Homo sapiens: one gene and its partners. The protein of the gene in region 1 purifies or fractionates together with the protein of each later gene. This does not show direct contact. Each region holds a gene or a part of one and is shown in the gene's direction. Other genes may lie near its edges. The genes, in order: TMEM106A, DIPK2A, LMAN2L and KIAA2013.

Region 1 (5,702 bases):
CTAGCTACTTGGGAGGCTGAGGCAGGAGAATTGTTTGAACCCAGGAGGTGGAGGCTTCAGTGAGCCAAGATCATGCCACTGCACTCCAGCCTGAGCAACAGAGCGAGGCCTCATCTGAAAAAAAAAAAAAAACAAAAAAAAACCCTGTAATCCCAGCACTTTGGGAGGCCAAGGCGGGCAGATCACGAGGTCAGGAGTTTGAGACCAGCCTGACCAACATGGCAAAACCGCCTCTACTAAAAATACAAAAATTAGCCGGGCATAGTGGCAGGCACCTGTAATCCCAGCTACTCAGGAGGCTGAGGCAGGAGAATGGCGTGAACCCGGGAGGTGGAGGTTGCAGTGAGCCGAGATCGTGCCACTGCACTCCAGCTTGGGCGACACAGCAAGACTCCATCTCAAAAAAAAGAAAAAAAAAAGAAATTAGCAGTGCACATCATAAGATACTAACAAAGTACTATCTCTTTAATGCATATCTGAATTTTGAATTGGATGGATGGTGTCCTGTTCTGAATGTTAAAATTCAGAACTTCCAAATATGGACTTATTTCTTCTAGTGATAATAACTAGCATTCATTGTGCTTTTGCCATGTGCAGGGACCTGTGATTAGTATTTTTTCATATATTAGCCGATAACAAATTCTGTGAGGTCAGTACAATTATCTGCCTTTTACCAACAAGGAAACTGAGACTTAAGGAGGCTAAGTGGGCTGCTCCATGTTATTGGGTCAATGGGAACAGAGATCTGGGAGTGGAAACCAGGCTGCCTGCCTGCCAATCCTGTGCTCCTACTCATTCCGGGCCACATCTGGGGAGCTAAATGTTGTTGGGGTAGTGTGCAGGGGAAAGCTTTGTATATGGAGAGGAGTGTCTGAACCCCCTCTCCGAGTTTCCTTGGTGTTCAGACTTTTCCATTCCTCCATCCTGGGTCCTGCTTTCCCACAGGAAGCTCTTTGTGTTCCTGGCCGTGCTCATCTGCCTGGTGACCTCCTCCTTCATCGTCTTTTTCCTGTTTCCCCGGTCCGTCATTGTGCAGCCTGCAGGCCTCAACTCCTCCACAGTGGCCTTTGATGAGGCTGATATCTACCTCAACATAACGGTGGGTGGGTGCCCTTGGCTCCAAACCCCCCTTCCTAGCAATACTTCGCTGTAACCTTTGTCCAGTGTTATGACCCTGGGCATGGGAAGCCAGAGATCTTATGGCACCCAGAGGGTGTTGGGAGCCTGAAGAGAAGTAGGAGCAACCATGAGCTCCATGACAGATGGTAAGGATTGGGACTCTACACAGTAAGGGGTCAGAATCCGGGCCAGATAAGTAAACCACAGGGGTGGAGTGGGGTGACAGTGCCTGAGACTCTCTGGATGGACAGGACTGAATGGAAAGAAGCTGTACAGGATGGACCTGGATCCTGAGGCAGCTTAACTTCGTAAAGTTGACCCCTCACCATTCAATGCCCCTCCAAGGGGCTCCCAGTTTTCATCCTCTGCACCTGAAGCTTGTCATGGTAGATGGGGCTCAGGCCAGACAGCCAGGCTTTTGCAACTGTTTGGCTTTTCCTAAGGATGGGCCATCTTCACTCCTCCCTTCCCTTGTCTTCATCCCCAGAATATCTTAAACATCTCCAATGGCAACTACTACCCCATTATGGTGACACAGCTGACCCTCGAGGTTCTGCACCTGTCCCTCGTGGTGGGGCAGGTTTCCAACAACCTTCTCCTACACATTGGCCCTTTGGCCAGTGAACAGGTGACTCCCCTCTCCCTGGCCAGCCCTGCCCACTGGTGTGTGGATGTGTGGTAGTGGGAAAGGGGCAGCTGGAGTTGGGGCTAACCCTGTGCCCATTTGGTTGACAGATGTTTTACGCAGTAGCTACCAAGATACGGGATGAAAACACATAGTGAGTACCCCTTGATCTCTTCTCCCCTAGCCACTTGCCTGGCTTAGGGACCCAATTAATACCCACCAGCTTTCCTGATTGCTTAGCAAATTCTTCAGCCAGCATCTGGCCTGCCCTCCCATGGCCGAGAATGTAATAAGCAAGGGTTCAGGGTCCCCAGCCTCTGCTTGTTTGGACCTTGATTAGAATGAAAAACAGGCTGGAATTTGGTTAATCTTTACAATATGTGACCTTGGGCTCTTCAGCCTGCATTGCTGAGGAAGAAGAATGTTTTGTCTGTCTCCTGAATGGGGGTCCAGCATGTGCCTGGGCCAAGTGAGTGGAGGTCAGAGTGATAGTGCAGCCATGCTGCTACACTCACCTGAAGGGTGGGAAGGGGTGGGAGTGACATTTTGGGGGCACCTGATGGAAGGAAAGAGTTCTGTGGGGTAAGGAAACTGGGACCTGCAGGCATCTTCTGAGCTGACAGGCTGCTCCATGTGACACGTGGTCCCACGTTCTCTTTTCTTCTCTCTCAGCAAAATCTGTACCTGGCTGGAAATCAAAGTCCACCATGTGCTTTTGCACATCCAGTAAGTAGAGCTTGGAGCTCTGGTATCCCTGCTCTCACTTCTGACTTCATTCTCACTCAGCTACACCTCATGGGCAGAGAGTCTTCCAAGCTGACCCCATGAATCTTTGTTGGCTCTTGGGAATAGCAAGTCTAGCCCCTTTTCTGAGTCTCACCTTGCCTATAAGTTATTAGGGGCAACAGGCATAGGGCTGTCTGGAAGCTGCTGGAAAACAGGTGGGGCAGCTGTCCCAGGTACCTTGGCAGAGTGGGGAGCCAGAGGGAAGGGCAAATGAGGGAGCTCCCCGCTCCCCACCCCCAGACAGTATAATGGGGCCAGAGCTTTCCTTTTCCTCCCAGCCATGGCAACAAGGCCTGCTTCCTCTCCAGGGGCACCCTGACCTGTTCATACCTGAGCCATTCAGAGCAGCTGGTCTTTCAGAGCTATGAATATGTGGACTGCCGAGGAAACGCATCTGTGCCCCACCAGCTGACCCCTCACCCACCATGACCTGTCTGCTGTCCCTGTACTCCAGGCACCTGCAACCCTGGTCTATATCTCCCACAACTCCCTGGTGACTAAGGAAGGACTACAGAGGCTTTGCCAAAGGAGAAGCCCTGCCTCATCACACCCTTACCTCCCACCCCCTCAGCACAGGAAGCTTGCTTTGAAGTTAACTTCATACACACACACTCATATCCTCCAGTTTCCCCCAGATTCTTTCAGGGGCTGCCATCAGATTCTGCCCTTGGTTAGTTTTTTGTTTTTTTTTTGGTAGAGACAGAGTCTCACTGTTGGTCCAGGTTGGTTTTGAACTCCTGGGCTCAAGCGATCCTCCCTTCTTGGCCTCCCAAAGCACTTGGATTACAGATGTGAGCCTGTGCCTGGCTGGTCTTTCTTGAGGAAAATCTGACCTGGCATTTTCTTGAGGCACCTTAGATTCCCTGGAGTGGCACCTGGCCTTTCTGTACTGAGCACCTGGTCAGTCTGAAGGGGGCATTTCACCCCAGCTCCATCAGGGCTGGCTGTCCCGTCTGAATGTGGAGAGAGCTGTAGTTTTATCTGGCTTTTAAAACATGGACCTGCCGGCTGGGCGCAGTGGCTTACACCTGTAATCCCAGTACTTTGGGAGGCCGAAGTGGGTGGATCACTTGAGGGCAGGAGTTCGTGACCAGCCTGGTCAACATGGTGAAACCTTGTCTCTACTAAAAATACAAAAATTAGCTGGGTGTGGTGGCATGCGCCTGTAATCCCAGCTACTCGGGAGGCTGAGGCAGCAGAATCACTTGAAACCGGAAGGCAGAGGTTGCAGTGAGCCAAGATCGTGCAACTGCACTCCAGCCTGGGCAAAAGAGCAAAACTTTGTCTCAAAAAAAGACTCTTTTCAAGTTTTCTACCCTCTGATAAGAAAATTTGGGGATATCCAGTGCCATCTCCAAGGACTTTCAGGGGATCATAGATGCTTTTCTGTGCCTATCTGCTTTGACCATGTGAAAAAGTGATAGTCTGCTTCTCTCTGGTAACTTGTCTGCCACCCATCTGATAGTAAGATTAGCCAAGGCCCTTTAGCCCTCTGTCCTTTCTGGTTATTGACTGTCCCTGGTTCCTAGGAAGACAGAGTTGTTCTCCAGCTAAAGCGTCTCCTCTCTATAAAGTAGTTTTACTATTCTTTTCATAGCAGGAGCCAAAATAGTAGAGGAGGGGAGAGAGGCACCTGGCACTCTGCGGGCCTGCACAGGAAAAACAGAGCCAAAGACAGAATCATTGTATAAGATATTTATTAAAGGAGAGCCTCTAAGTCCACATCCTGAGCCCATGTGAGTGGACACAGGTAGGTAAAACGGTGGGTCCAGCTGCTGTCATCTGAAAGCCTTCAGGAGATGAAGCTATCAGTATCCAGCTGAAGGCTGCTGGGTTCTGTTCCACCACCACCTTAGCACCAGGGCCCTCTCTGGTCCCAGAGGCCTCATCTCTCCTTGGGCTTTGACAATGTGGAGCAGCACATCAGCAGGGACTGGTCTAGACCCTCCCTTTCCTGTCACTTAGCTGGAGCTAAGCTCCAGATAACCCCTAGGTTCCCACTGGCTCCTAGTAGAAATAGTTTCTGTACTTTAGCAGAACAGGAAGGATATTTGTTCATTAAAGGTGGCTTGGTCTTACAGCTGGGTGCAGTGGTATATACCTGTAGTCCCAGCTACTCAGGAAGCTGAGGTGAGAGGATCTCTAGAGCCCAGGAATTCAAGTTTAACATGAGCAGCAACATTAGCAAGACCCCGTTTAAAAAAAAAAAAAGAGCTGGGCGTAATGGCGCACACCTGTAATCCCACCTACTCAGGAGGCTGAGGCAGGAGAATCACTTGAACCTGGGAGGCAGAGGTTGCAGTGAGCCAAGATCGCACCACTGCACTCCAGCCTGGGCAACAAGGGCGAGACTCTGTCTCAAAAAAAAAAAAAAAAAAAGATGGCTGTCTCTTTATCATTCAGACAGAACGATGAACACAGGTGAGCAGGGAAAGCTAATTTTGAAGTAGGATGCATGGAGAGGGAGAAGTGGTGACAGAACTTGGTAACTAGCTGGCTGGGGGAACGAGGGGAAGGAAGGAGACTGCTGTCTCCAAGCTGAGGTCAGGGTGGTGTTGGCAAGAGCGCAAAAGTCCAGGGAAGCCAGGCTGGAGCTGCTGTGTATAGACTGCCAAATGTGAAGTATTTATATTGTATTCAATAAACTATACTTAAGAGTGTTCAAAAAAGTCTCCTGGGAGTGGGAAGGGAGCTAGTGGATACTCCCTATTTCACAAACTTTTCTTTTTTTTTTTTTTTGAGACAGTTTCGCTCTGTTACCCAGGCTAGAGTGCAATGGCATGATCTTGGCACAGTGCAACCTCTGCCTCCTGTGTTCAAGTGATTCTCGTGCCTCAGACTCCCTGAGTAGTTGGGGTTACAGACATGCACCACCACACCAAATTAATTTTTGTATTTTTAGTAGAGACAGTGTTTTATCATGTTAGCCAGGCTGGTCTCAAACTCCTGGCCTCAAGCGATCTGCCCGCCTCGGCCTCCCAGAGTGCTGGGATTACAGGCATGAGCCACTGCACCTGGCAGAAACTGTTTCCTTAATGTTCTAACGGGCAGCAAGGTTTCTTCCCCAGGCCTCTGAGCCACTGATGACATATCCTGCCCTTCTGTTTTCCGTGAGATTGCTCACAGGACCTCACTCTCCCTCTTGCTCCCATTGTGTATCTCTAAAGTCTCT
Region 2 (4,081 bases), on another chromosome or scaffold:
TATTTTTGCCTGAAATGTTTCTCCAATCTAGCTTTTCATTCTGGGCCATCTATAGTTGCTCTCATGATCTTAATCCTTCCAATCTTCAGCCCAGAGTTATCTTTCTATAAAATAAATTATGGTCGTGATTACACAAGTTACGACCTATTTTTCTAGCGTCACCTGTATCTCCTTGCCAACTACGTTTCTCACACTCTAGCCACAGTGAACTTATTGCTTCGTGAACCAAATGGAGCAATCCCTTATGTCCATGTCTTTGCATATACTGTGTCCTGAACCTAGAATGCTATTTTTTCCTAGTTTCTTTTCAGATTTGTTTTCTTTTAAGACCTAAATCAGATGTTCTCCTTTTTGCAGCCTTCTACAGCCCCAGGGACAAGTGCTAATTTAATTCCCCACTATTCCTGTAGCATTGTGTCATATTTCTTTATGGCACTTTCTGTGTATGATGGAAAGTCGCTAGACTAAACCTGTAAGTGGTAGAGACCTTTCTGAATCTTTCTGCCTAGCGTTAGTGGGCTCCCAGTGAATGTTTGTATGAATTTATATATTTAAATGTTTATGGTTATAATATACTTTTACCTAAAAGTGTAGAACAAATACTATTAATTAGTGAAATATTCTATTTTTGGAAGCAATGAAAACTATTTAAAAAATTTTTTTCTACTTCTGCTTTTCCTCCTTTCACAGATAAACCTGAAAATTGGGATGTATGGTATGAAAGCAAGTTTGATGACTGTGATAAGGAGGCTTGCTTATCATTTTCAAAAGAAATTCTTTGTGCTCGTGCCACTGTGGACCACAATTACTATGCTGTTTGTCAGAACCTCTTATCCAGACATGCCACCTGGCGTGGCACTTCTGGAGGACTCCTTCATGATCCACCAAGTGAAATTGCCAAAGATGGCCGGCTCGAGGCCTTGCTGGATGAGTGTGCCAACCCAAAGAAGCGCTATGGCAGATTCCAGGCTGCAAAAGAACTGCGTGAATACCTAGCACAATTAAGTAACAACGTGAGGTAGTCTATGGTGAACTTTTCTTTTTTTCTCCATTTAAACAGCACTGGCTAAAACTAAACCACCAAAAAACGATCTGAAAAAATGAAATTTGGAAGTGTTACATTCAGAGGATGATAAACTTGCACTGATAGATCTTAATGTTAACATCCATCAAAATAAGACATTACTTCAAAAATCACATGATGCTTCTGCAAATAAGTATGTTCTTATACTTTGGAGGCTTGAGCTGTCATCAGCTGCTCCCCACTACCCCGGAATGCTTGAGTGGATTAATGAATATTGTTAAGCTATTGGAAATGAGTCTGATAGTACATTGGCTTGTGTATCAAAGGGTACTTGGTACTTAGTTTGCATTTACTATCATGATTTTGTGAATCTCTTGCATTTACTTTGAATGTCAAGTCAGATTGGTCTGTTTTATAGGCCGCTTTTTCCTTCTGATGTGTAGGGTTTTTTCCCCCTTTTTTTTTTTAATTAAATTTTGAAAATTCAGGTTACTGTAGGTGTTCATTTAAATTTTTAATAGTTGTCATTCAGTGCTATTTGGTACATATTTACTGTTAGGGCAGGATTCCCAGGTTTACTGTGTTTTTTTTTTTTTTTTTTAAAGAAAGCTAAATATTACATTATGTAAATACTTCTTTTCACCAACTTCTGTAGTTTCACCATTGCATGGTGTCATTTCAGGTTATTTAACAGTTATATCCCTCTATGCCAATAATTAGAAGTGTACACTAAACATGAAGTTTGGCATATGTTGCAAAATGTCATTTTATCTTTTCTAAAGGCTTTAAGAAGAATATACTAGAATCTATATATTGATGTTAATTTTGATTCAGAAAAAAAATACAACCCAGTATCTAAAAAGTGTTAACTAGTCCAAGATAGTAATGCATATGCCAAAGAAATATTACACCTAATCTCATGTTTAGAATTTAAAATAGAATTGGTCAGCTACTTATTCTTACCACCCTACTTCCAGTATTTTAGCTCTGTCATTATTAAATTCAGATCTTCCTGATTATTTTTTCTGTTGAAAGTTAAACTACTGCTTTCAAGTAATTTAAAGTTATCCTACCTTTTATTCATGGGTAGTTTTGCAAAATTAACATGGTAGCCATTGTTTGAATTTAATCGGGCATCATAACTTTTCATTTATTGAGGAACTAATCATTATTACTATAAAGCATACAAATTAGCCAGTCAGCACACTTTGGTCTTCTTTACCTAAGGGTTAAACATCAGAACATCAAATTTAATTATTTGCATAGAAATGTGTGGGCTCTTTATATAAGTTGACTATCACTAACAGGTAATATTTTTCTGTTTGAAGTTGTTACTTTTGTTTACAGCAAAGTTTGATGTAGTGTGCAGTAGTGAGCTCTAGACTGATCTTTTTCTAAATCAGAAAGTGATTAAAGTATGCACAACCAAAGGCAGGTTTTTCTTTTTCATTTATTCAGCAACTATTTATTAAGCATCAACTCTGTGCCAGGCACGTTACTAGCTGCTACATACTGTCTGAACATGACATACGGTTAAGTAACTTTACAATTATTATCAAATACTTCAATGTAGATATTTCTTAAGTTGAAATAGCATTAACTAGGATAATGCTTTCATGTTATTTTATTGTCTTGTGATAGAAATTCAACTTGTACCATCTAAAACTAGGTTGCTATAAAAATAGGAGGATGAAGTCAATAAAGTTTATGCCAGTTTAAAAACTGGAAGGAAAAGGTAAGAGCTCTCCATTATAAAATAGTTGCATTCGGTTAATTTTTACACATTAGTGCATTGCGTATATCAACTGGCCCTCAATGAAGCATTTAAGTGCTTGGAATTTTACTAAACTGACTTTTTTGCAACTTTGGGAGATTTTTGAGGGGAGTGTTGAAAATTGCCAAACACTCACCTCTTACTCAAAACTTCAAATAAAATACACATTTTCAAGAGGGAGCACCTTTTATATTTGATAAGTTTTCATTATAAACCTTATAATACCAGTCACAAAGAGGTTGTCTGTCTATGGTTTAGCAAACATTTGCTTTTCTTTTTGGAAGTGTGATTGCAATTGCAGAACAGAAAGTGAGAAAACACTGCCAGCGGTGATTGCTACTTGAGGTAGTTTTTTACAACTACCATTTCCCCTCCATGAAATTATGTGAAATTTATTTTATCTTTGGGAAAAGTTGAGAAGATAGTAAAAGAATTAGGAATTTAAAATTACAGGGAAAAATATGTAAGTGAAAAGCAATAAATATTTTGTTCACTTTGCTATCAAGATGTTCACTATCAGATATTTATTATATGGCAGCAATTTATATTTTTAATCATTGCCCATTAATAGACGCAGTAAAATATTTTTGAATCAGACATTTGGGGTTTGTATGTGCATTAAAATTGTCTTTTGTACTGTAAGTTACTGTTAATTTGAATATTTTATTGAACTGTCTCCCTGTGCCTTTATAATATAAAGTTGTTTCTACAACTTTTAATGATCTTAATAAAGAATACTTTAAGAATCACACTTTTCAGACTATTTCTTAACTTCAGATATCCACATTTTTCTTGAGTGGAAAGTGAGTTTGAGTAGATAAGTTACTAGTTTCCTCTTGCATGCACTTTAATTAGAATTTTGAGGGAACTATCTGATTGGGTGTGCACCAGGCTTTAAGGTTATGTGTGTTTTCTTTTTCTGTAGTAGTGAGTTTTTAAAAAACTTTTACCACTAAAATGGAATTAAAAGAAAAACTTCATTATGGAAATTTTCAAATGTATGCAAGAGAATAACATAATGAACAGTAGTATATCATTACACTAACTTCAAAAGTTAACAACATGTGGCAAAACTAGTTTCATCTCTAAACTACTTGCTTCCAGCTTATTTTGAAGCAAATCTGAGATGTATCATTACATCTCAGATTTATATTACGCATTTTCTCCTAGTAAAACACAATACTTTTTTTTTTTTTTTTTTTGAAACTGATTCTCGCTCTGTCACCCAGGCAGGAGTACAGTGGCACGATCTCGGCTCAGTGCAACCTCTGCCTCCCGGGGTC
Region 3 (7,035 bases), on another chromosome or scaffold:
ATATATATGAGTACCTGTGAACGATATTTGTATCTAGAAATACACTAGTCACTGATTGAATGTTTATTGACTCCCTCCTGAACACCAAGACATTGTACTAAATGCTTCGCATATCTCATTTCATCTTCATAATGAACCCTGTGAGCTTTGTATTGTTCTGTTTACAGTGAGGAAATAGAATCTCAAAGAGGTGATGTAATCCACCGAAGGGTTACACAGCTATAAGTGACATAACTGCAGTTAGAACTCAGGTCTCCCTAATTACAGAGGCCATTTGGAATTTTAGCCTAGAATCCATAAATCCACAAGCTAATGGGTGTCTTTTCCATCGAAATATGCTGAAGATACAGTTATCCCGTAGAGGTCTTCAAAAAACACTTTTTTAAAAGTAGTCTTGTAGTACAAAAAGTTGAAAACATTTCTCCACCCTTTAAACAACAGTCCTTTGGATGATAAAACAGGTGAGAGTTTCTCCTTTCTGGTGACTCTTAAATTAGGAATAAAACTACCACCTTGCCTGAACCAGTGTGATTCTTCAATCTTTGGTTCTAACTTACAGAGTGCTTTCTAGGGGAAAAACAAAATTGCTCCTGTGTGAAATTAGTGGTTATCCAAGAAATACTTCCAGGAACTCTTGACTAGGCGTAGAAAATAAGATGGCATTTAGTGACTTACACTAATGTGAGGTTAAAAGTTGAAGGCCAACTCGTGTTGCCGAAGTAGACAGATTCTCTGTAGTTGCAAAGCTGTGAGGCTCCCTGTCTGGTGCAGCGTTTCTTCAATTTGGCTGCACATCACAGCCTTCTGTGGTGCTTTTTAAAAATACATAATCCTGGCTGGGTGCGGTGGCTCACGCCTGTAATCCCAGCACTTTGGGAGGCCAAGACGGGCAGATCACGAGATCAGGAGTTCGAGACCAGCCTGACCAACATGGTGAAACCCCATCTCTACTAAAAATACAAAAATTAGCTGGGCATGGTGGCGAGCGCCTGTAATCCCACCTACTCATAAGGCTGAGGCAGGAGAATTGCTTGAACCCAGGAGGTGGAGGTTGCAGTGAGCCAAGATTTCGCCACTGCACTCCAGCCTGGGTGACAGAGTGAGACTCCATCTCAAAAAAACAAACAAAAAACAATCCTGCACCCCACTCTAGCCATACGAATGAGACTCTTTGACTGAGGGACCCATGTATACGTGCAGTTAACAAGCTCCTTCAGGTGCTCCCAAGGTCCAGCATGCCTCTGGCTGTTACCTGGAACTGGGTCCACACCAGCCTTGGGAAGAGTAAGGCACCCTTAGGCTAAGGATTGCTGTCTCTTTATTATTTGTTTATTTTCTAAGCAAGCTAACATAGGAGATTGCTATCTCTTTAAAGTTGCAACTTAAACTTCTAATCAGGGTTACTAGAGGTGATGAGTGAAGGAAGCCTTGGGCTCATCAGAGCTCCACAGGGCATTTTTAATCCCTTTTTCTTAATTGTCACTGAAATTATGAGCATACTCTCAGATGCCAGTTTCTGTAAACTGCTTGATAACATGCTCACCATTTCCTTGTTCTAAATGGTAGTTGTTGAAGATTAACTTCATGCCAGTTTAATCATCCACGGATTGATGTCATGCCTTTCTGTGTCCTGTATGAATTCTGCCAGTGGTGTTAAGAGGAGGACGGCAGGGGATCTGCACTGCAGCCTCGGACTCCTGGCTGTGGCCCATGGAGCCCAGTGCCGTGGGTGCTGCCTTGCCTCATGGCAGCCTCTTCTCACAAGCTGTGATTCTGACTGATCTGTTTCCAGTTCCTTGAATGTGCCACCCTCATGCTTCTTGTGCCCTCAGATCTTTTGGTGGACTCCCTCTAATTACTTGAGTCTCAGCTCAGATATTGCCTCCTCAGGGAGAGGTTCCCTTGCCCATCCCTTGTATTACCTATTTTATTTTCCTTATAGCATTTTTCACTATCTGAAATAATTTTATTTGCTTCTTTGTTGTTTGTTTCTTCCACTCTGATCTTAATTCCATTCCTGTCTGTCTTGTTTCTCTTTGGACCCTCAGCATCTGGAACAGTACCTGGCTTGTAGTAGGTGTTCACCGTATTAAAGGAGTGAAGGGTTTGAGTTCTGTACCCTCGCCTACCTGTCCCACAGGGCAGAGCTGAGCTGAGCTTGTGTAGGTACCTCTTGTCGCTAATGGCTTAGAACTGCAGCTGTTTGCTGGAGCAGAGCTTAATACCCTCACGCCTGATGATTTTCTAAATCTGTCATTCTGCAATGCCTCCATGGAGCTTCTTCCTTGCCTATGTGTGGTAGGTTAGAATGACAATAGTTATTTGGGAATATATGACCATAAGGCTCAGTTAGAGGGTAAGTGATCCCTTTGGATTAGAGTTAGTTTCATAGTCTCTCAAGTGGCAAGATTTTGGTCTTCTGGGCAGGAGCTGTTTCCTGAGATCCTGGATAGTAAAGGATGTCTTGAATTTGGAAGAATTTAGCCCTGTTGTCTCCTCTTTCCCCTTGCTATAGAAATACAGTAGGCTGGGTACAGACAAACTTGAGACTGACTCCCAGAGACATAAGTGCGGCGTGCCTGGACAGCGTACTGCTATGTGTTTTATAAAGTGCCTTCCAAAAGCTTCAGGACCCTCTATGGGTTAGAGCGGTCTTCCTAGGGGACCCCTTTGAGAATCTGATATAGTAACAGACCCTCTCCTCAGAAAAATGTACAAGCACCCGTGCATATGGTTTTGCCTATCATCTTGAGGGTGCAAAGACTTCACGGATGCCCTTCAGGGACCCTAAAATTCTGTTTGGGGATTTAAGTTGGTTTGTTCATCCATCACAGCTGGGTCATAGCTCTTCTGTGGCTGTGTCTTTCTGACTTGGTCTCCTGTCTTCTGTGCCCTCTCTTGTTTTTATCATAACCTGCTGGACCCTCTCAGGCCCAGAAGAGGCGATATTCTCCAGGAGTCCAGGTACTCAGTTCTTGGCTCATCATGAGCATCCCTCATTCCCATGTGTCCATCCAACATTTGTTGCTGTTTCAAGTCCATGTGGTTGTCTCAGGAGTCCCCGGTCTCTGGTCTCGACTGCATCTCCATCTTGCATGTTAACCATTTGGGACAAAGGGACAAATACTCCCCAAAGGAGTGGCATGCCTCATGTTACCCCTTCACCACCTCACTACCCTGCCTTTTTGCACTGCCTTGGCATTGGGCTTGTTCTGGAATGATTAGTTCGCCATTTCTAAGGAAGAATTGCTCCTACAACTCTACTGGGGAGAGAGGGCCCCTGAAATAGATGGGAAAATGAGTGGCTTATGGGAAAACTTGCAATTTTCTCCCTGTTAAGGGAGAACCTTGCCCTCTTATTATTATTCGGAGAAGTTACGTGTGGAGGAGGCTTAAGTGGGCTGGAAAGTCTTTTGACTAAGGACAGTCATTGTGGCTGGCTGAGCCCATCCAGCAACCCCGTTCCATGTTCTGAGTTCTAATCCATTTAGCCTTATATGCTTATAGAATTTTAGAATTGAAAAGAGCTATCCTGAATGGAAAGATTCCCCTGCTCAAACAGGTATTTTCAGAATACCCGCTGTGTGCAGAACCATGGTTGGGAGGAGATGGGGCTGAAGTTTAGACATATGAAGACGTGATGAATGAATTTTTTCTTCAAGAAGCTTATGTGGCAGTTGGGGAGATAGGTACATATACACGAAAAGGAAACCCCTGGTATTAGGCGGCACATAAGTGCCAAATGGTGACCTTGGGGCATTCAAGTCAGACTCCAGCGTCTTAGGAGGACCACTTCAGGCCCACCCCAGTTCAGGAGCCAAGAGAATTACTGAAGGCAAATACCAAGTGTAGTCGCTTCCTGGGCCCATTTCCCTTGAGAGACCATCTGAATGTGGGCTCTCAGGGGCTGCTGACAATGAGGTCGAGTGGCTGCCTATTCTGCTGTAAGGGGCTCAACTTGTATGTGCTGAATTCCTGTTGCTGTTTGTACAGGCGTTCCTATGTGCTCTTCCTTAGTGTCTGCTTCCCCCTCTCTGCTTTCCAGCGGGTATTCCCCTACATCTCAGCCATGGTGAACAACGGCTCCCTCAGCTATGATCATGAGCGGGATGGGCGGCCTACAGAGCTGGGAGGCTGCACAGCCATTGTCCGCAATCTTCATTACGACACCTTCCTGGTGATTCGCTACGTCAAGAGGCATTTGACGGTGAGAGTCCTTGTCCTGGACCAGATGGTGGTGTGGGCTGTGTCGCTCTTGCTCCCATGGCCTGACCCTGATTTATCTCTCTTTTTATTCTAGATAATGATGGATATTGATGGCAAGCATGAGTGGAGGGACTGCATTGAAGTGCCCGGAGTCCGCCTGCCCCGCGGCTACTACTTCGGCACCTCCTCCATCACTGGGGATCTCTCAGGTACTGCCACGCGCACTCTTGGTTTGCCCTGACTGAGGCCTCTTCTCAATACCCACACTTCATTGAGGCCTCTCACAGGGGAGAGCCAGAGGAGCGGTGCTCTGGAAGGAGGTGCCTCAAGACTGCTTCTCCTTCTGCATTCTTATATCCACATTCCTTAAAAACCCACGCCAGGCTTTCCTAGTACAGTTGTCACTAGAAGATGGTTGGTGCTAATAGAAAGCAGTGTTTGTCCCTTCATTAAGCTGGCTCTTCTAGCCTGTATCGTGAGTTCCTTGCTTTCTGATTTCTGCTGTCAGGCTCCTCTCCTTCCAACCACTAATGTTCCCCGTTCCCCTTCCTTAACAAAGCTTTTCCTTGACTTTGCCGTCCCTCTTCTGACCCCAGACTCTCCTTTTGCTGAGACTTTTGAATGTGTTGTGTGTACAGATCCTTTTGTTTCCTAGCTGTCCACCTCCTTAACATGCTGACTCAGACCTGTGCTCTATCTTGCTAGTACACTAACACCATTCTCATGAAAGGTCATTCTGTTTCCTTGCCATATTCAGTACTCTATTCTCGTTCTCACCCTTTGTCCTCCTCAGCTCATTTAACCCATTACCCTGAAACTCTTGCCTTCTTGACTTATGTGACATTAACAGCACCTGGTTCTTTTACTTTTCCATCTCCTCTTGTTTCTTTTTCTACTTATGCCTGATTCGTAGCTTCTCGTTTATACACTTACTCTCTTTGCTTGAACCCCAATCATAACATCTTTTGGGAAGAGAAAAGGAACTGAACTTCTGTTTCTTTTGATTAATATAATTTGTTCTGGATAAAGCTAGTTTGGAATAGAAGTTTCTTGTGGCAAAATAGAAAGGCAGATACCCATCTGAAAAAGCCGACAGCTAGTGAGCTCCAGCCATTGTAGCTAAAAGGAAATGTCAGCTCAGTGAGGCTAAATCTTCCAGTTTTTCAAGAGCAGTTGGAATTCTGGATTTTTTTTTATATATATATATGGAGTCTCGCTCTGTCGCCAGGCTGGGGTGCAGTGGCGCCATGTCAGCTCACTGCAACCTCCACCTCCTGTATTCAAGCGATTCTCCTGCCTCAGCCTCCCAAGTAGCTGGGACTACAGGCGCGCCACCACGCCCAGCTAATTTTTGTATTTTTAGTAGAAACGGGGTTTCACCATGTTGGCCAGGATGGTCTCCATCTCGACCTTGTGATCCGCCCGCCTTGGCCTCCGAAAGTGCTGGGATTACAGGCATGAGCCACTGAGCCCAGCCTGGATAATCTGGATTTTTAAAATGCAATCTGCTGATCTTTAAAACTCTGGCATCTGATTTTTTTAAAATCAACTTTACTGAGGTGTGCTTTCCATACAACAGAAGAATACAGTTTGAAGAGTTTTGACAAATATTTACACCTATGTAGTCACCATCACAATTAAGATATGAATGTTTCCATCACCTGCCAAAAGCCTTATTATCCCCCTTTGCAGTATTCCTCCCCTTCTTGGATTCCAGGCAACCATTGATCTGCTTTCTGTCATGCAGAGAGATTAGTTTTGGCAATTAGGTTCTAAGTACCGAGCAGGCCAGACCTGTGGGAAAAATTTAGTCTCGGCAGGGGGATAGGAGGCATAGGCTGGAGATCTTTGCTATATAATCTCATTATATGACTACACATTTTCCTTTGAGCTTACAGGTTTCTGGGTTAACCTCCTGACGTACTTTTTAATGGAAAGTCCCCAACTGTCAGAAATGGCAGGGGAGAATAATTTTTTGTTTAGTCTAAGTTTTTTGCCCTAGGTCTTTAGTGAGAATACCCAAGTTAGTAAGTCTGTGTTCTCTGCCCATAGGGTATCCCTAAATGCAAGTTGTTTCTTTCTTTTGAGGTCTTTCTTGTTGCCATCCTCTTACTTGTTGTATAGTAGGTTGTTGAAAACTGCTGAGAAAGTTAGGATGTTTCCCAGCCGTTCCAGGCTTTAATGCCCTGCATTGCATGAGGAGCATTGCCCTGGCCTTTTATCCTGTCCCATGGTTTAAACTGAGCTCTGACAGTTAACATTTTTCCAACAGAAGATGAATCCAGTTTTTCACTACCTGGGAATCTGCTAAAGATTCTAGCAGTCCAAGCAGCTGTGGATGCTCTCCTTATAAATGACCAGAAATCCAGGCCCCAGTCAGTAACCAACCTAGTAGCAATGAGCACCCCTAGCACTCAGATTTGTGGTCTCTAAATACCAATTCCCCCTAAAAGGAACTGCAGCTTCCTTGAGAAATGGCTGATGCAGGGTTTGAGGTAGGAAATCTATAAGTTGGAACTTCCCAGAAAAGCAAGGAAGTTATAAAAAACTTCTGGGTTTATGTAAAGAGACGCAGGAGCCAAACTGAATAGGCTCCTACTTGACAAAGACAGGTGAGTTGAGCATCAATAAGAATCTAACTTCAGGCCAGGCGCGGTGGCTCACGCCTGTAATGCCAGCACTTTGGGAGGCCACGGCAGGTGGATCACCTGAGGTTGGGAGTTCGAGACCAGCCTGACCAACATGGAGAAACCCCATCTCTACTAAAAAAAAAATACAAAAAATTAGCCGGGCGTGGTGGTGCATGCCTGTAATCCCAGCTACTTGGGA
Region 4 (7,983 bases), on another chromosome or scaffold:
GCACAGATAGCACAAGTGATATCCATAGGCATGGGGCAGCAAGCTCAAGGTCCCAAGGCAAGTAAAAGGAAGAGGCCTGAGCAGAATCCAGGGCCCCTACCTCCCAGCTGGGATCCAGGGCTGGGAGTTTCAGCATCTGGAGACAGGACTTGGTGCCAGAATCCACCGGATGTTTTGGATTCAGGAGGATGCAGACTCAGACTCCAGACCCCTGGAGGAAGAGGAAATGCCAGGAGGAGCAGAGGGAGGAGAATGAGCATTTGTTGGCTGGTTCCATGTTCTCTTTTTTTTTGAGACAGGGTCTCACTTTGCTGCCCAGGCTGGAGTGCAGTGGTGTGATTACAGCCCACTGCAGCCTCAACTTCCTGGGCTCAGGTGATTCTCCCACCTCAGCCTCCTGAGTAGCTGGGACTACAGGCATGCACCTTGCCTGGCTAATTTTTTTTTTTTTTTTTTTTTTTGTAGAGACAGGGTTTCACAATGTCGGCCAGGCTGGTCTAAAACTCCTGAGCTCAAGACATCTGCCTTCCTCAGCCTCCCAAAGTGCTGGGATTACACGTGTGAGCCAATGCTCCCGGCCCCTGGTTCAGTTTTCAAAACTCTCCCTCATTCCCTGCTCGCAACAGCCTTGCTAATTAAACAGTATTGCCCCATTTGCAAAATGAGAAAACAGACCCAGAGAAGTGAAGCAATCTGCTCGACGCCACACAACTGATGCAGAACTACAGTAAGGGAGGCAGCATTGGAACCCAGCTCTAACCCTCCATTTGCTGTAGTCCAAGGAGAACCTCAATGGTGATGTACTATGAATAGAAAAAAAAAACAAAACCTTGAGGCCAGGTGCCATGACTCACGCCTGTAATCCCAACACTTTGGGAGGCTGAGGTGGGAGGATCCTTTGAGACCAGGAGTTCAAGACCAGCCTGGGCAACATAGACCCGTCCCTCCGCCCCCACCCACCTCCCGTCTCCACAAAAAAAATTAGGAGGGCATGGTGGTGTGCGCCTGTAATCTCAGCTTCTCAGGAGGCTGAAGTGGGAGGATCACTTGAGCCCAAGAGGTTGAGGCTGCAGTGAGCCGTAATTGTACCACTGTACTTCTGCCTGAGTTACAGAGTAAGACTCTGTCTCAAAAAAAAGGAAAAGAAAAAACCCCTTGGGCAGTGGGAGTCCCATGCCCAAAAGTCATTTTAAGTCAGGAGGGGGAATCAATCTTGGAGGCTGCTGGCCTCTCTGGGAGAAAGGATTCACTCTGGCAAAGCCTGCCCTCTCCTCCTTTGGTATCTGTTTCCTGTTCCCTTCACCAAATTGCTGAAACTTGAACCCTGCCCAAGCTTCATGGAGAAAGGGGGCCTGTCTCTTTAACCAGTGGTGGCTGCCGTCCAGATGTTACTTCTGGTACGTGCTGCACGTGCTGTGGACAGTTAAAGGCGCAGGACTCAGATTTCTAGGGAAGGTGTAGAAAGGATAGCTGGCCTGGAGGGCAGCTGCCCGGTGACATGAGGGGCTTTTCTCATTTTCATCCTTTTCTTTTATTCATTTCCTTTTTTGGCCCCAGGAAGAGCAAGGGCTTCGGTAGGATGGCCATATTCTGTGCTGCTAGATGGATGATCACCTCTCACTAGCACTTAAGCCTCCCTAATAATAATAATAGTAAAAATAAATCATAATAAAATGTCCTCTTTCTTTTTTTTTTTTTTTTGAGACAGAGTCTCACTCTGTCTCCCAGACTGGAGTGCAGTACCTTAAGGCTGGGCACGGTGGCTCACGCCTGTAATCCCAGCACTTTGGAAGGCTGAGGCAGGTGGATCATCTGAGGTCAGGAGTTCCAGACCAGCCTGACCAACATGGAGAACCCTGTCTCTACTAAAAATACAAAAAATTAGCCAGGCATGGTGGCACACGCCTGTAATCCCAGCTACTCGGGAGGCTGAGGCAGGAGAATTGCTTGAACCTGGGAGGTGGAGGTTGTGGTGAGCCAAGATCGTGCCATTTCACTCCAGCCTGGGCAACAAGAGCGAAACTCCATCTCAAAAAAAAAAAAGCCTAAACCTCAGCATCACACAATATCCCCTTGTAATAAACCTGCACATGTACTCCCTGAACCTAAAATAAAAATTGAAAAAAAAAAATAAAGAAGGTTAAGTGTGGTGGCTCACACCTGTAATCCCAGCACTCTGGGAGGCCAAGGTAGGAGGACTGCTTGAGTTCAGGAGCTCAAGACCAGCCTGGGCAATGTGGCAAAAACCTGCCTCTCCAAAAAATACCAAAAAAAAAAAAAAAATTAGCTGGGCATAATGGTGACGGCCTATAGTTCTAGCTACTTGGGAGGCTGAGTTGGGAGGATCACTTAAGCCTGGGAGATGGAGGTTGCAGTGAGCTGTGATCGTGCCACTGCACTCCAGCCTGGGCAACAGAGTGAGACCCTCTCTCTAAATAAATAAATAAATAAATAGGACTGGGGGTGGTGGCTCACACCTGTAATCCCAGAACTTTGGGAGGCCACGGTGGGCAGATCACAAGTAAGGAGTTCCAGACCAGCCTGGCCAACATGGTGAAACTCCATCTCTACTAAAAATACAAAAATTAGCCAGGTGTGGTGGCAGGTTCCTGTAATCCCAGCTACTCGGGAGGCTGAGGCAGGAGGACTGCTTGAACCCAGGAGGTGGAGGTTGTGGTGAGCCGAGATCGCGCCACTATACTCCAGCCTGGGCAACAAGAGTGAAACTCCGTCTCAATAAATAAATAAATAAATAAGGCAGGCGCAGTGGCTCACGCCTGTAATCCCAGCACTTTGGGAGGCTGAGGCAGTTGGATCATCTGAGGTCAGGAGTTTGAGACCATGCTGGCCAATGTTGTGAAACCTGGTCTCTACTAAAAACACAAAAATTAGCCAGGTGTGTTGGCTGTAATCCTAGCTTCTTGGGAGGCTGAGGCATGACAACTGCTTGAACCTAGGAGGCAGAGGTTGCAGTGAGCTGAGATTGCACCACTGCCCTTTAGCCTGGGGGACAAAGTGTGACTCTGTCTCAAAAAAATAAAAAATAAAAAAAAATAAAAAAAATAAAAAAAATAAAAATGGTAAGCAGACTGTAGGACCACCTGGACAGTTCCTTCTAAAGGGCACTGGCCTCAGCAAACATTTCTGTGTCTGCTCACAGCCCACCAGAGGCCACCTCAAATGACCGTTTAATTTCCAACAACTGGGAAGCACTGTCTGGCTTTGGAATGTACTGAAACCAAAGTGGAAACAATCACCCATTGTCTGCCTCTGTGCTTATATTGAATTTTTTTCCCAAAATACAAAGCAATATTTATCTTTTGCATCGATGATTCACAATTTAAAGCCATTTTCAAAGTATGAGACGTTAGTGTCTTATGTTATTTAATAAGTTAAAACTTAGGACTGACATCAAGAAGACGATTTGGTGTAGTGGAGACATTGATGGCCCTTGGCTGGATTTGTGTCCACGTGTGGTGTGCATGCAGCTAGACAGGTCTGTTAACAAAATATTTTTGGGGAAGTCTAGTTTCTGGTGGTTAGTTTTTATTTTATTTTTTATTTTTTTAGACGGAGTCTCGCTCTGTTGCCCAGGCTGGAGTGCAGTGGCGCGATCTCGGCTCACTGCAACCTCTGCCTCCCTGGTTCAAGCGATTCTCGTGCCTCAGTCTCTCAAGTAGCTGGGATTACAGGCGCCCACCACCACGCCCAGCTAATTTTTGCATTTTTATTTTTTTATTTTTATTTATTTATTTTTTTTTTTTTGAGACAGAGTCTCCCTCTGTCACCCAGGCTGGAGTGCAGTGGCGCGATCTTGGCTCACTGCAAGCACCGCCTCCCGGGTTCACGCCATTCTCCTGCCTCAGCCTCCCGAGTAGCTGGGACTACAGGCGCCTGCCACCACGCCTGGCTAATTTTTTATATTTTTAGTAGAGACAGGGTTTCACCGTGTTAGCCAGGATGGTCTCGATCTCCTGATCTCGTGATCTGGCGGCCTCGGCCTCCCAAAATGCTGGGATTACAGGCGTGAGCCACCGTGCCCAGCCTAATTTTTGTATTTTTAGTAGAGACAGGTTTTCACCATGTTGGTCAGGCTGGTTTCGAACTCCTGACCTCAAGTGATTTGCCCATCTCAGCCTCCTAAAGTGCTGGAATTACAGACGTGAGCCACCACTCCTGGCCTCTGGTGGTTCCCCTTCCCCTCCTCCTCCCTTTTCCTTTCTTCTTCTTTCTTCCTCTTCTTCTCTCTCCTTTTTTTTTCCTCCACTTTTTCGTATTGTTCCAAGTGTTTTTTTGCAGTGAGGATAGTCTTTTTTTTTTTTTTTTTTTTTGAGACAGAGTCTCACTCTGTCGCCCAGGCTGGAGTGCAGTGGCGTGATCTCGGCTCACTGCAAGCCTGCAACCTCCGCCTCACGGGTTCAAGCAGTTCTCCTACCTCAGCCTCCTGAGGAGCAGGGATTACAGGCATGCGCCACCACGCCCGGCTAGTTTTTGTATTTTTAGTAGAGATGGGGTTTCACCATGTTGGTCAGGCTGGTCTCAAACTGCTGACCTCGTGATCCGCCCGCCTTGGCCTCCCAAAGTGCTGGGATTACAGGCGTGAGCCACCGCGCGCGGCGAGAGGATGGTCATTTTTACAGAAACAAAGTTGTTGTGTGTGTGTGTGTGTATGTTTTTAAATTTTGGGGCTGTTGAATCCATCAGTAGCAAAGGGGCCCAACACGTGTTCGGTTTGGCTGGCTCGATGTTTTTTTCACGAGTGAATTGGATGCTTCCAGTCCTCCCCAGACCCCTGCACTTAACTCCACTGGACTTCACTCTTCCGGCCTGGGAACGAGTGGTCCCGCCCCCGGCAGCTTTTGTCCCGCCCTCGCCGTGGCTCCGCCCCCTTCTCTCCGGCCTGCTCTCTCTCCTCCCTCCGCCCTCCCGTTTTCCATCTGTCGTAAAAGACACGGCGACGCTTGACCGCCGGCGTCGTTTGACGGCTGGAGGCCACCGAGAAGAAGGAGGAAGCAGGGGTGGCGGCTGCTGCGGCGGTTGCGGCGGGGGCCGGGGTGGGCGCCGCGGTCCGGGCCGGGCAGTGAGGCGCGGGCGGCCGGGCCGGTGGGCTGGGCGGCGGGCCCGGCGGCCGCCCTCGCACCCTTGCCCGCGCCTGGCGGCCCGATGTGGCTGCAGCAGCGGCTCAAGGGGCTGCCGGGACTGCTGTCGAGCAGCTGGGCCCGCCGCCTCCTCTGCCTGCTTGGCCTCCTGCTGCTGCTTCTGTGGTTTGGGGGGTCCGGCGCGCGGCGGGCGGCGGGCGGCCTGCACCTGCTGCCCTGGTCCCGCGGTGAGCCGGGCGCCGCCGAGCCGTCTGCCTGCCTGGAGGCGGCCACCCGCGCCTGGCGCGGCCTGCGGGAGCGCGGTGAGGTGGTACCGCTGGGTCCTGGAGTGCCGGCCCTGGTGGCCAACGGCTTCCTGGCCCTGGACGTGGCTGCCAATCGGCTGTGGGTGACTCCCGGGGAGCGGGAGCCCGCCGTGGCGCCGGACTTTGTGCCCTTCGTGCAGCTGCGCCCGCTGAGCGCGCTGGCTGAAGCTGGAGAGGCGGTGCTGCTGCTGCGGGAGGGGCTTCTGCGCCGCGTGCGTTGCCTGCAGCTGGGGTCCCCAGGTCCTGGCCCCGTGGCCGCCGGCCCCGGGCCCGCCTCCGTCTCTGGCCTTGCCGCGGGGTCCGGCCGCGACTGCGTGCTGCTGCAAGAGGACTTTCTGGCGCACAGGGGCCGACCCCACGTCTACCTGCAGCGCATCCAGCTCAACAACCCCACGGAGCGCGTGGCCGCGCTGCAGACTGTGGGGCCCACTGCCGGCCCAGCCCCCAAGGCCTTCACCAGTACCCTGGAGAAGGTCGGAGACCATCAGTTCCTCCTCTACTCAGGCCGGTCCCCGCCTACGCCCACTGGGTTGGTGCACCTGGTGGTGGTGGCCGCCAAGAAGCTGGTGAACCGCCTCCAAGTGGCTCCCAAGACGCAGCTGGATGAGACGGTGCTGTGGGTGGTGCACGTCTCTGGCCCCATTAACCCCCAGGTGCTCAAAAGCAAAGCAGCCAAGGAGCTCAAGGCGCTGCAGGACTTGGCACGGAAGGAAATGCTGGAGCTCTTGGACATGCCAGCGGCGGAGCTGCTTCAAGACCACCAGCTCCTCTGGGCTCAGCTCTTCAGCCCAGGTGAGTCCTGGCCAGCGCTTGGTCCACCCTAGATATGTCCCTCCCAAGTCTGCAGAGGTGACACTGAAGGTGATGGTGGGGTGGTTGAAACTTGGGCTTGGCGTTTCACCAGTGGTTGAATCTGCTCAACTGCTTAGTGTCTGTGCGACCTTTGGATTCGTCGCCTAATCTCTCTGGGCCTGTATTTAATAACAATAACGCCTACCTCAGAAGGTTTTTATGAGACTGTAGTGGACAATTGAGTGTAAAGGTCAATTCTTTCTGTTACTTGTTTTGGTAGATGGGGCCTGATGTGAGCAGAGTGAAGTGTTTTAGAGTCAGTTTGCAGAGGTGAAACCAGCAGGTGGATCCCCTGATTCTTTGCTCAGCACCGCAGTCGGCCTGGTGACAGACGTGGGCTTCTTGACATAACCCCTGCTAGGCTGAGGTGCGTCCTGGCAGTTGTGGCTGCAACTGGTTCACAGGGAGGTTGGAGAATCCCTTTTAGCAGGTTGAGATGCTCCCGCCCGATGAAAACTCTCCTCTCGTTGACTGTTAAAGAAAAGAAAATCCTGTTCTGGATGAGAGAGGGGTTTTGGTTTCCAGGGTTCCAATTGTCTGAACCTTTGTGTTTGGTTGCTCAGAGAGTTGAGTTCATTCAGCAAGTATCTATTGAATGCTTCTGCCAGGGCTGTTCTATGCATGGGGGGGTGCAGATGGGAACCAGAGTTCCTGTTCTCATGGTGCTTGCTTAAATTCTGGTTGGGAGGAAGACAGACATTAGAAAAGTGAAAATTAAAATTAAAATAAGGCATCTTTTTAGGCTAGAATGTGCTGGCTGGGCGCGGTGGCTCACGCTGTAATCCCAGCACTTTGGGAGGCTGAGGCAGGTGGATCACCTGAGGTCAGGAGTTCAAGCCAACCTGGCCAACGTGGCGAAACCTTGTCTCTACTAAAAATACAAAACTTAACCTGACCTCATGATCCGTCCACCTTGGCCTCCCAAAGTGCTGGGATTACAGGCGTGAGCCACCGCGCCCGGCGAGAGGATGGTCATCTTCACAGAAACAAAGTTGTGTGTGTGTATGTTTTTAAATCTTAGGGCTGTTGAATCCATCAGTAGCAAAGGGGCCCAGCACGTGTTTATTCAGCAAGTGTCTATTGAATGCTTCTGCCAGGGCTGTTTTAGGCATGGGTGGTGGCCTGCACCTGTAGTCCCAGCTACTCAAAGGCTGAGACGGGAGAATCACTTGAACCCGGGAGGCGGAGGCTGTAGTAACCTGAGATCGTTCCACTGCACTCAAGCCTGGGCAACACAGTGAGACTCTGTCTCAATAAACAAATAAATACATACATACATAAAGCTACAAGACTGGAGAGAGAAAGGACAGAGAGGAGAAGTGGCCTGAGACTGGCCTCAGCACTGGTGACTGATCTGGCGCAGGATGTCTGACCATAGGGTTGGTGCCAAGTCCTGGCTAAGTCTGTGTTCCTCTGGGCTCTGGCACCAGGCCCCGCTGCTTTTTAACAGGATTCTAGATTTCAGGCCCACAGGCTCAAGTTGGTCGTGTAAACAAGACAGGCTGACTTTCTTCTATACTTTAGGGAGATGGGCACCACTGTCTTTATCATTAAGGCACAACACCTCACTCTTCTGCTGCCCTTGGTCTTTATTTCGTATGCTCTGCCTCCCAGCTGTCCTTCCCCCTTAACATGCCGCTTTCATGGTGTTGCAGGAGTGGAAATGAAGAAGATCACTGACACCCACACGCCGTCTGGCCTCACCGTGAACCTGACGCTCTATTACA

Evidence for each region.
Region 2: the proteins of TMEM106A (region 1) and DIPK2A purify together in Homo sapiens (co-immunoprecipitation; 2 studies listed by BioGRID and IntAct, with this or other methods). This does not show direct contact.
Region 3: the proteins of TMEM106A (region 1) and LMAN2L purify together in Homo sapiens (co-immunoprecipitation; 2 studies listed by BioGRID and IntAct, with this or other methods). This does not show direct contact.
Region 4: the proteins of TMEM106A (region 1) and KIAA2013 purify together in Homo sapiens (co-immunoprecipitation; 2 studies listed by BioGRID and IntAct, with this or other methods). This does not show direct contact.

The regions. Positions count from the first base shown.
Region 1 is NC_000017.11:43,214,843-43,220,544, forward strand, and holds the end of TMEM106A (transmembrane protein 106A), read left to right. Parts: intron 1-945; coding exon 946-1,099; intron 1,100-1,606; coding exon 1,607-1,747; intron 1,748-1,854; coding exon 1,855-1,898; intron 1,899-2,416; coding exon 2,417-2,470; intron 2,471-2,838; coding exon 2,839-2,959; 3' UTR 2,960-5,199; downstream 5,200-5,702. UniProt on the Homo sapiens protein: Activates macrophages and polarizes them into M1-like macrophages through the activation of the MAPK and NF-kappaB signaling pathway.
Region 2 is NC_000003.12:143,988,820-143,992,900, forward strand, and holds the end of DIPK2A (divergent protein kinase domain 2A isoform a precursor), read left to right. Parts: intron 1-690; coding exon 691-1,022; 3' UTR 1,023-3,549; downstream 3,550-4,081. UniProt on the Homo sapiens protein: May play a role in cardiomyocyte proliferation through paracrine signaling and activation of the PPI3K-AKT-CDK7 signaling cascade.
Region 3 is NC_000002.12:96,709,036-96,716,070, reverse strand, and holds part of LMAN2L (VIP36-like protein isoform 2 precursor), read left to right. Parts: intron 1-2,931; coding exon of another isoform or gene 2,932-2,964; intron 2,965-4,045; coding exon 4,046-4,207; intron 4,208-4,300; coding exon 4,301-4,415; intron 4,416-7,035. UniProt on the Homo sapiens protein: May be involved in the regulation of export from the endoplasmic reticulum of a subset of glycoproteins. May function as a regulator of ERGIC-53.
Region 4 is NC_000001.11:11,923,418-11,931,400, reverse strand, and holds the start of KIAA2013 (uncharacterized protein KIAA2013 precursor), read left to right. Parts: upstream 1-4,973; 5' UTR 4,974-5,163; coding exon 5,164-6,196; intron 6,197-7,911; coding exon 7,912-7,983.